Homo sapiens: one gene and its partner. The protein of the gene in region 1 purifies or fractionates together with the protein of each later gene. This does not show direct contact. Each region holds a gene or a part of one and is shown on either strand. Other genes may lie near its edges.

The links. Proteins that work in one complex are often made in the same cells at the same time.
Region 2: the proteins of MTCL3 (region 1) and RIOK2 purify together in Homo sapiens (affinity purification with mass spectrometry; one large-scale study listed by BioGRID and IntAct). This does not show direct contact.

The regions. Positions count from the first base shown.
Region 1 is NC_000006.12:127,481,336-127,484,835, forward strand, and holds part of MTCL3 (microtubule cross-linking factor 3 precursor), read right to left. Parts: intron 1,650-3,500; coding exon 1,578-1,649; intron 1-1,577.
Region 2 is NC_000005.10:97,173,248-97,176,747, reverse strand, and holds part of RIOK2 (serine/threonine-protein kinase RIO2), read left to right. Parts: intron 1-1,432; exon of another isoform or gene 1,433-1,531; intron 1,532-3,484; coding exon 3,485-3,500. UniProt on the Homo sapiens protein: Serine/threonine-protein kinase involved in the final steps of cytoplasmic maturation of the 40S ribosomal subunit. Involved in export of the 40S pre-ribosome particles (pre-40S) from the nucleus to the cytoplasm.

The DNA.
Region 1 (3,500 bases):
GGAAAAGCTGTAGTGACAGAGTATATTTGGACTTACTAAGGGAACAGAGAGAAAGGTACAAAAAATGATATCATGGTCTTGGCTGTGAGACTCTCTGGGATTCTAAAAATGCTGAGGTCCATACATGTTCTGGTGCAAGTACCAGGAGAAAACAGAGCAGGAACAGAGCAGGTACAGAGAGGAAAAAGGAAAATAATATATAGTTAATATGTTATGCTTTAAAAAATGTCTGAGATCAACTTTTTCAAATTTTGAATATTTAAAATCACTTTAGTTAAATTATCTATCTAATGTGAAAAAAACCTTGTAATCACAAAAGTATACTACAGTACCATAGATTCCAACTGACATAGTTTAAAGGTTAATATCTAGCCAAGTGCTTTTGGAGAGTTATAATGTCAGAGGCGTGTGACCCAGAACAACTACATCTTGAATAGGAGCTGGGTAAAATGAGGCTGAAACCCACTGGGCTGCATTCCCAGATGGTTAAGGATTCTGAGTCACAGGATGAGATAAGAGGTTGGCACAAGATACAGGTCATAAAGACCTTGCTGATGAAACGCATTCCAGTAAAAAAGCCAGCTAAAACTCACCAAAACCGGGAATGACCTCTGGTCGTCTTCACTGCTACAATCCCACCAGTGCCATGACAGTTTACAAATGCCATGACAACATCAGGAAGTTACTCTATATGGTCTAAAAAGGGGAGGCATGAATAATCCACCCCTTGTTTAGCATATCAAGAAATAACCATAAAATGGGTAACCAGCAGCCCTCAGGGCTGCTCTGCTTATGGAGTAGCCATTCTTTTATTCCTTTACTTTCCTAATAAACTTGCTTTCACTTTACTCTATGGGCTCGCCCTGAATTTTTTCTTGCACGAGATCCGAGAACCCTCTCTTGGGGTCTGGATTGGGATCCCCTTCCTTAACAATAGTGTCATTTTTATCCCAAATGTTTCCTCTTCCATTTTAAAATCTTCTTCATTACAACCATTGGCACCTCTTTTTACCTTGAAAGCAAAGCTAGTCTTTACTGTGGCTGTGCTTCTAAGGTTTTTAACAAACCCATGTTGAGTACATCTTTCAACTTTCATTTTTATTCTTTTGTCTCCTTTCTTTTGCTTCTCCAATCACTGGTATGGAGAATTACTTCATTCCAGGGCTCTCTAAAGATATAATGAGCCTTTCTCTCCTTTCTGACTTCCCTCTGCAACATTCCTTTCTTTACTTTCTCCTGACACTATAGGAACAGCCTTTCTATTGACCTTATTAATTATAAAAGGACAAGATTAGCATCATGAGTATAGTTCTCAAATATAGCAGCGTATAAAATACGAATGACATTTTTCTGTGTGCTTACAATGTAAAGCAATTATAATAGGGATGTTATGGTTGGCTTTATAAGTAAATATTCTGATTTATACTACCTGTATCTACAGCTACATAATTGATATGCAAATTTGACTTTGTTTTGCATAAGTTTATCTGGCCATTATATCTATTTATAAATGTAGTTTGTGATTATATACACTTAGAGGTACTTGGTGTACTAGTTGAAATTTTATTTCCACATACCTCTGTGGGAGTCTGTTGAGCCTTTTTTTCAGATTTTGGCAAATCTTTGCTTCCTCTTCTTTTTAAGGATAACTGAAACAAAGCATGAATATATTTAGTTGGATAAACTATAATTTTAATTCAATTTTATGTTTTTAAGTATTCTAGTCTCAAACGACAAAACCAAGACAAATAAAAAGAGTTAGTTCAATAATCATAAAAGGAGGAAAAAAAATCCTAAACCAGATAGATTTAGATATATTTTTACTTTGGACTAGGATACACATCACAGTAGAATGTAGCTGGCAATTATTTAATTTGAGAAATACAGGAAACCTACTGTGAAAATGCAGAAAAACAACAGACAAAATTGATTGTTGACTCAATATGATATATAGTTCAAATGTAAACAAATGCTTGTTAGCATTCCACATCACTGAAGGAAAAAAAGTAAGTTATTATTTCCAATGTTGGGAGTTAGGTTGCTATAAGCTTATGAACACACACTTTCAGTGAATTTATGTAGAATCGGAAGCACTTCATTCTCCCCTCACCACACATCACCCCCTTGCTCCTCCTCGACACGTGCAAAATGATAGGGCATGGTAGGGGTTGTAGTGAAATGGAGAAGGCATGCCCCATCTCAAGAAACAGGTGGACCAGCCACAGCTTCAGCTCATTGTGTGATACAGGAATGTGGGCTTTTACAAGAGAAGCTGGGAATCTGGATTCTTATGTAAAATCTCCCACATTTTACTGGCTGATCCTAATTAAAATTCAAACTAACACTTTGGAAGTCAAAGAATACACAGCTAGTGCCAAACTGTTTCAAGGACAAGCGTAATATGATCTCTGGTGCTCAGTTCCATTTCTCACACCAATATAAGAAGAAGGGTCTCTGTATGTAAACAATAATTATCCGTATGTATGACTGTCTACCATATACTACACATTGAGGGGGAGACTCAAAGTTTGATTAGATACTGCATCTACCATCAGGAAGCTGAAACTTAGCAGGGGAGGAGACAGAGAAGCAAACAATTACAGTGCAAATTGATAAATGCTATGCTTTAGGTTCTGTGAAGCAGGGGTTTTGATTTAGTGTGGCATCACCACCATAAAAATAGTGCTTGCCACATGGCAGGTGGTGAAAAAAATACTTGCTGAACTAATGATATATGAATACCAAATCGAGGTTCTGAGGTCAAAGAGAAGGACAGGGGTATAGACTGACAGTAAAAATAGGGAAGCCTTTTCCAAACAGGAGTCTTCATAAATTCGCAAAGAAATGAAAATTAAATTCTTCACATGTTAATTTCTAACCCATATCCACTGTTAAGTAAAGGCATACGTTCAAGCACAGAAGGCAGGGGAATACTTTGGTGCAACTGCTTTCATTCAGTATGAAACTGAAACTACACAGACAAATGAATAGCCCACGTGGTTATTCATTTCTAGTTCTTTACAGGAAGAAGTTCTTTCTGTTGCTTGTATAATCTTCTTAGAAAGGAAAGCTTGGGGACTGACTCACCATAACCAAAAAGTAATTTAGGAAGTAATCAACAAAACAGTCCCAAGAATACCAAGAATAAAGTGAGCTAAACTAAGAAACCTGGAACATTCTAGGTAGGGGCTGCCTACAAGAAGCGTTGAATTTGTTTCACTAAATACTTATTGAATGCTTGTATTTGAATTCACTCAATTATGTGTTTATTTAGTGACTACCAATGCACTTCATAACATACCTGTGACACAATAATAATGAAACCAATGTGATCTTTGCTCTTTTGGGGGTTCTCAGCTTACTTGGCATGATCTGTTCAGTCTGGAATTCAACACAGTGTTATGAAAGCAATGATAATACAAGAACAATATTAACTGTCATTGAGCCCTAATTCATGTCAACCCCTTCACATACATTATCTCAGCTAATTTTTAAACACT
Region 2 (3,500 bases), on another chromosome or scaffold:
TAATTATCATCTGTAGAAACCTTAGTGTCTCAGATAAGTTGGCTAGTTTTTTGTTTCACATAAAGGAACAAACATTTATAGATTTATATGTATATTAAAAATGGTAAAAATTGGCTGGGTGCAGTGGTTCATGCCTATAATACCAGCACTTTGGGAAGCCGAGGTGGGCGGATTACTTGAGGTAAGGAGCCCAGCCTGACCAACAAGGTGAAACCCCATCCCTACTAAAAATACAAGAATTAGCCGGGGATGGTGGTGGCCACCTGTAATCCCAGCTACTTGGGAGACTGAAGCAGGAAAATCACTTGAACCCAGGAAGCAGAGGTTGCAGTGAGTGAAGATTGTGCCACTGCACTCAAGCCTGGGCAACAGAGCAAGACTCTGTCTCAAAAAACAAAAATGGTAAAAATCTTTAGTTTTTAAGAGGTAAGGATGAAGAGAAGTGGGTTAAAGGATACAAACATACAATTAGAAGGAATACATTCAATGTTTGATAGCAGAGTAGGGTGACTATAGTAAACAAAATGTATTGTACTCAGGAGATGAACACACTAAATACCCTGACTTGATGACTTCTCATATATACTTAACAAAATGTTACATGTACCTCATACATTTATACAAATAGAAAAAAATGCTTAACCTGGCAGATGAAATGTCAAAATCTCAAAGACGGTTTTCTCAGGGTTAGGCCTATTCATTGCACTTCAGGTGTGCTGACCCCTGCAGTTTCCCCAAATATTGGAACTTGACTGCATATTTTGTGGCACTGGCGGACTACATTTATACTGTCCCCTGACATTAAAAAAAAAAATCCTTTATTTTTAACTTTGCCTTCAAAATTAAGTTCAGCATAGATTGTTAAATATAATAATATCCAAATTAAATATATCCAACAATAACTAAGTTAAACAAAAGATAATATTGTGTTTTTATAATCCTGCCAGTAGGATTTGTCATAGTTTATCTTCATTTTTCAAAACAATGTGAATTAAAGATTGCTACAGTGTGTGAACACCTGTTTCTTGAGGATTCAGCTTGTTCTTTGAGTGGGTTATATACTTAAATTTTCACTAATCATGGGAGATTTCTTAAGGCAGCATAAATTAGTAATACTGATACCATACATGTCAATGTACTTCTTATACTAATAGTTTGTATCTTGTAATATTCAGTCAGTAAATGAGCAGCTTGGTAGGGATCATTTACACATTTTCCCAAAAGGGTAGTAGGTGTTTTTCAGGATATTTATATTGAAGGTATAGGAATGGAATCTGGTTGCACATAAATGCACTCCTTAATGTATTGATTATTCATAAGAGAGGAACAAGAAGATAAAGATTGGGCTATAGCATGAGGTCTAGGCGATAGCACAAGTTCTAGACAAATATTCACAATCTTTAAGTTTATCACGTGCTATTGATCTGTCTAGGTATGCTCAAAATGGTCTACACTGAAAAAAAGTATTTAAAAACAAAGCAAAGAAAAATATCTGGGAAGTGGGAAGTGGTTTGGTTCTTGTTCACAGAAGGTAAGCAATAGACAACCTTTTGAAATTAATTGCTGGGGTAGTGTAGGGTGAAGGAGTGGATGCCAAAGAAATAACCAGTACGATCTGTGTCTTAAAGTTGAGAAGATAACACATGAAACAGAACCTTTTATTTATTTATTTATTTATTTATTTATTTTCAAGACAAGGTCTCACTCTGTCACCCAGGCTGGAGTGCAGTGGCACGATCACGGCTCACTGCAGCCCCTACCTCCTGGGCTCAAGCCATCCTCCCACCTCAGCCTCCCAAGTATCTAGGATCACAGGCATGTGCTACCATGCCTGCTTTGTAGAGACAGGACCTTGCTGTGTTGCCCAGGCTGCTCTCAAACCCCTGGCCTCAAGAGATTCACCCACCTCGGCCTCCCAAAGTACCGGGGTTATAAGCGTGAGCCACCACTGCAAGTCTAAGAACAATTTTTTTTTTAATTATATACTGAATTTAGAGAAACTTCAGTAAGTGATAGAATAGTTGATGGAGGAGGTTTCAGGTAGTGAGTGGAGCTGAGTGGAGCCATGAAGCTTGGATATTATTTGACCCTAAGACAGTGCATTTTGGCAGAGAAGTGGTATGGGCAATGACATGAATCTATGTGAGTCCTATGTGTTTAGGTGACACTGAGGTGACTGTCCTGACTGCGTTTCTTGGTGTGTATTGGAGAGAATATTGGGAGAACTAGGACTGTACAGGTGGATTAAAGAGTTTTGAAAACCAGGAAAAGTTTATATTTACAAACTGAAAAGAAAATTTACAGCCAATGTAAAAAAAAACTTTTTTTGAGGTGTAGTCTTGCTCTATCACCCAGGCTAGAATGCAGTGGCACGATATCAACTCACTGCAACCTCTGCCTCCCGGGTTCACGCGATTCTCCTGCCTCAGCCTCCCAGGTAGCTGGGACTACAGGCATGTGCCACCACGCCTGGCTAATTTTTTTGTATTTTTAGTAGAGATGGGGTTTCACCATGCTGGCAGGCTGGTGTCGAACTCCTGACCTCAACTGATCCACCCGCCTCGGCCTCCCAAATTGCTGGGGTTACAGACGTGAGACTCCATGCCCATCCCAATGTATATATTTTTAAATGGAATATTAACATCAGCAGGTTAGTCTGGTATTGGTACATAGAATAGGTTAGGTATGATGGCAAGAGCTAGAACACTTGTGGAGTAATGAGGTATATGCCTCCTTACAAGTATATGTTGGTGCAAAAGTAATTGCAGTTTTTGCCATTCCTAATACTAGCATTCTAAATGTCAAAGGGCATAAATCTAAGGTATTTTAAAGAAAGTAATAACAGGGCTTTGTAAACAGTAAGATTGAAGACAGTAAGCTTAGGGGAAAAGATGTATGGAGAGTCTTAACACTTGAATCAGACTACAACAGTGTATATTTTTCACATAATAGATTTATATTGCATATTGTGGCCTGGAGAAAAAGTTCAGTGCCCTATAAACCAAAATGTCTGATCTCTTAGAATGCCTCATTTCCTAATATGTCCGAAGATGAGTATTTCCTAAATTTGTTTCCAATTTAAATATTTTGAGCACATTTCAACAAATGTCAGAGACTTACAAAATAGGAAAGGATATACCCTAAGAGACTGTAAGCTTCTTGGGGGCTTTTTGACACTAATTTTAGAGTGTTTAGAAACTTTTTAACATTCATTTTTGTAACCCCAGCACAGTGCATAACATTTTGTAAATGTTCATTTTTTGTGGAAAAGTGAATTCAAACTTTTGTTTAAAATTTGCTTTTTATGTGTGGCTAATTCTACGCAGTGAATAAATAAGCTATGCATAAATAACCATGTGTTAACTACAATTTTATAAAGGTTTGTGTGTTTTTTTTCTGGTTGTAGAAAGGTATATTTACTTTTATTGTTCTTTAAAGAGTAATGACCTGTTCATTAGCTTACACCTGTTTTGCAACATTTTAGGCATTGTATGAGAGGA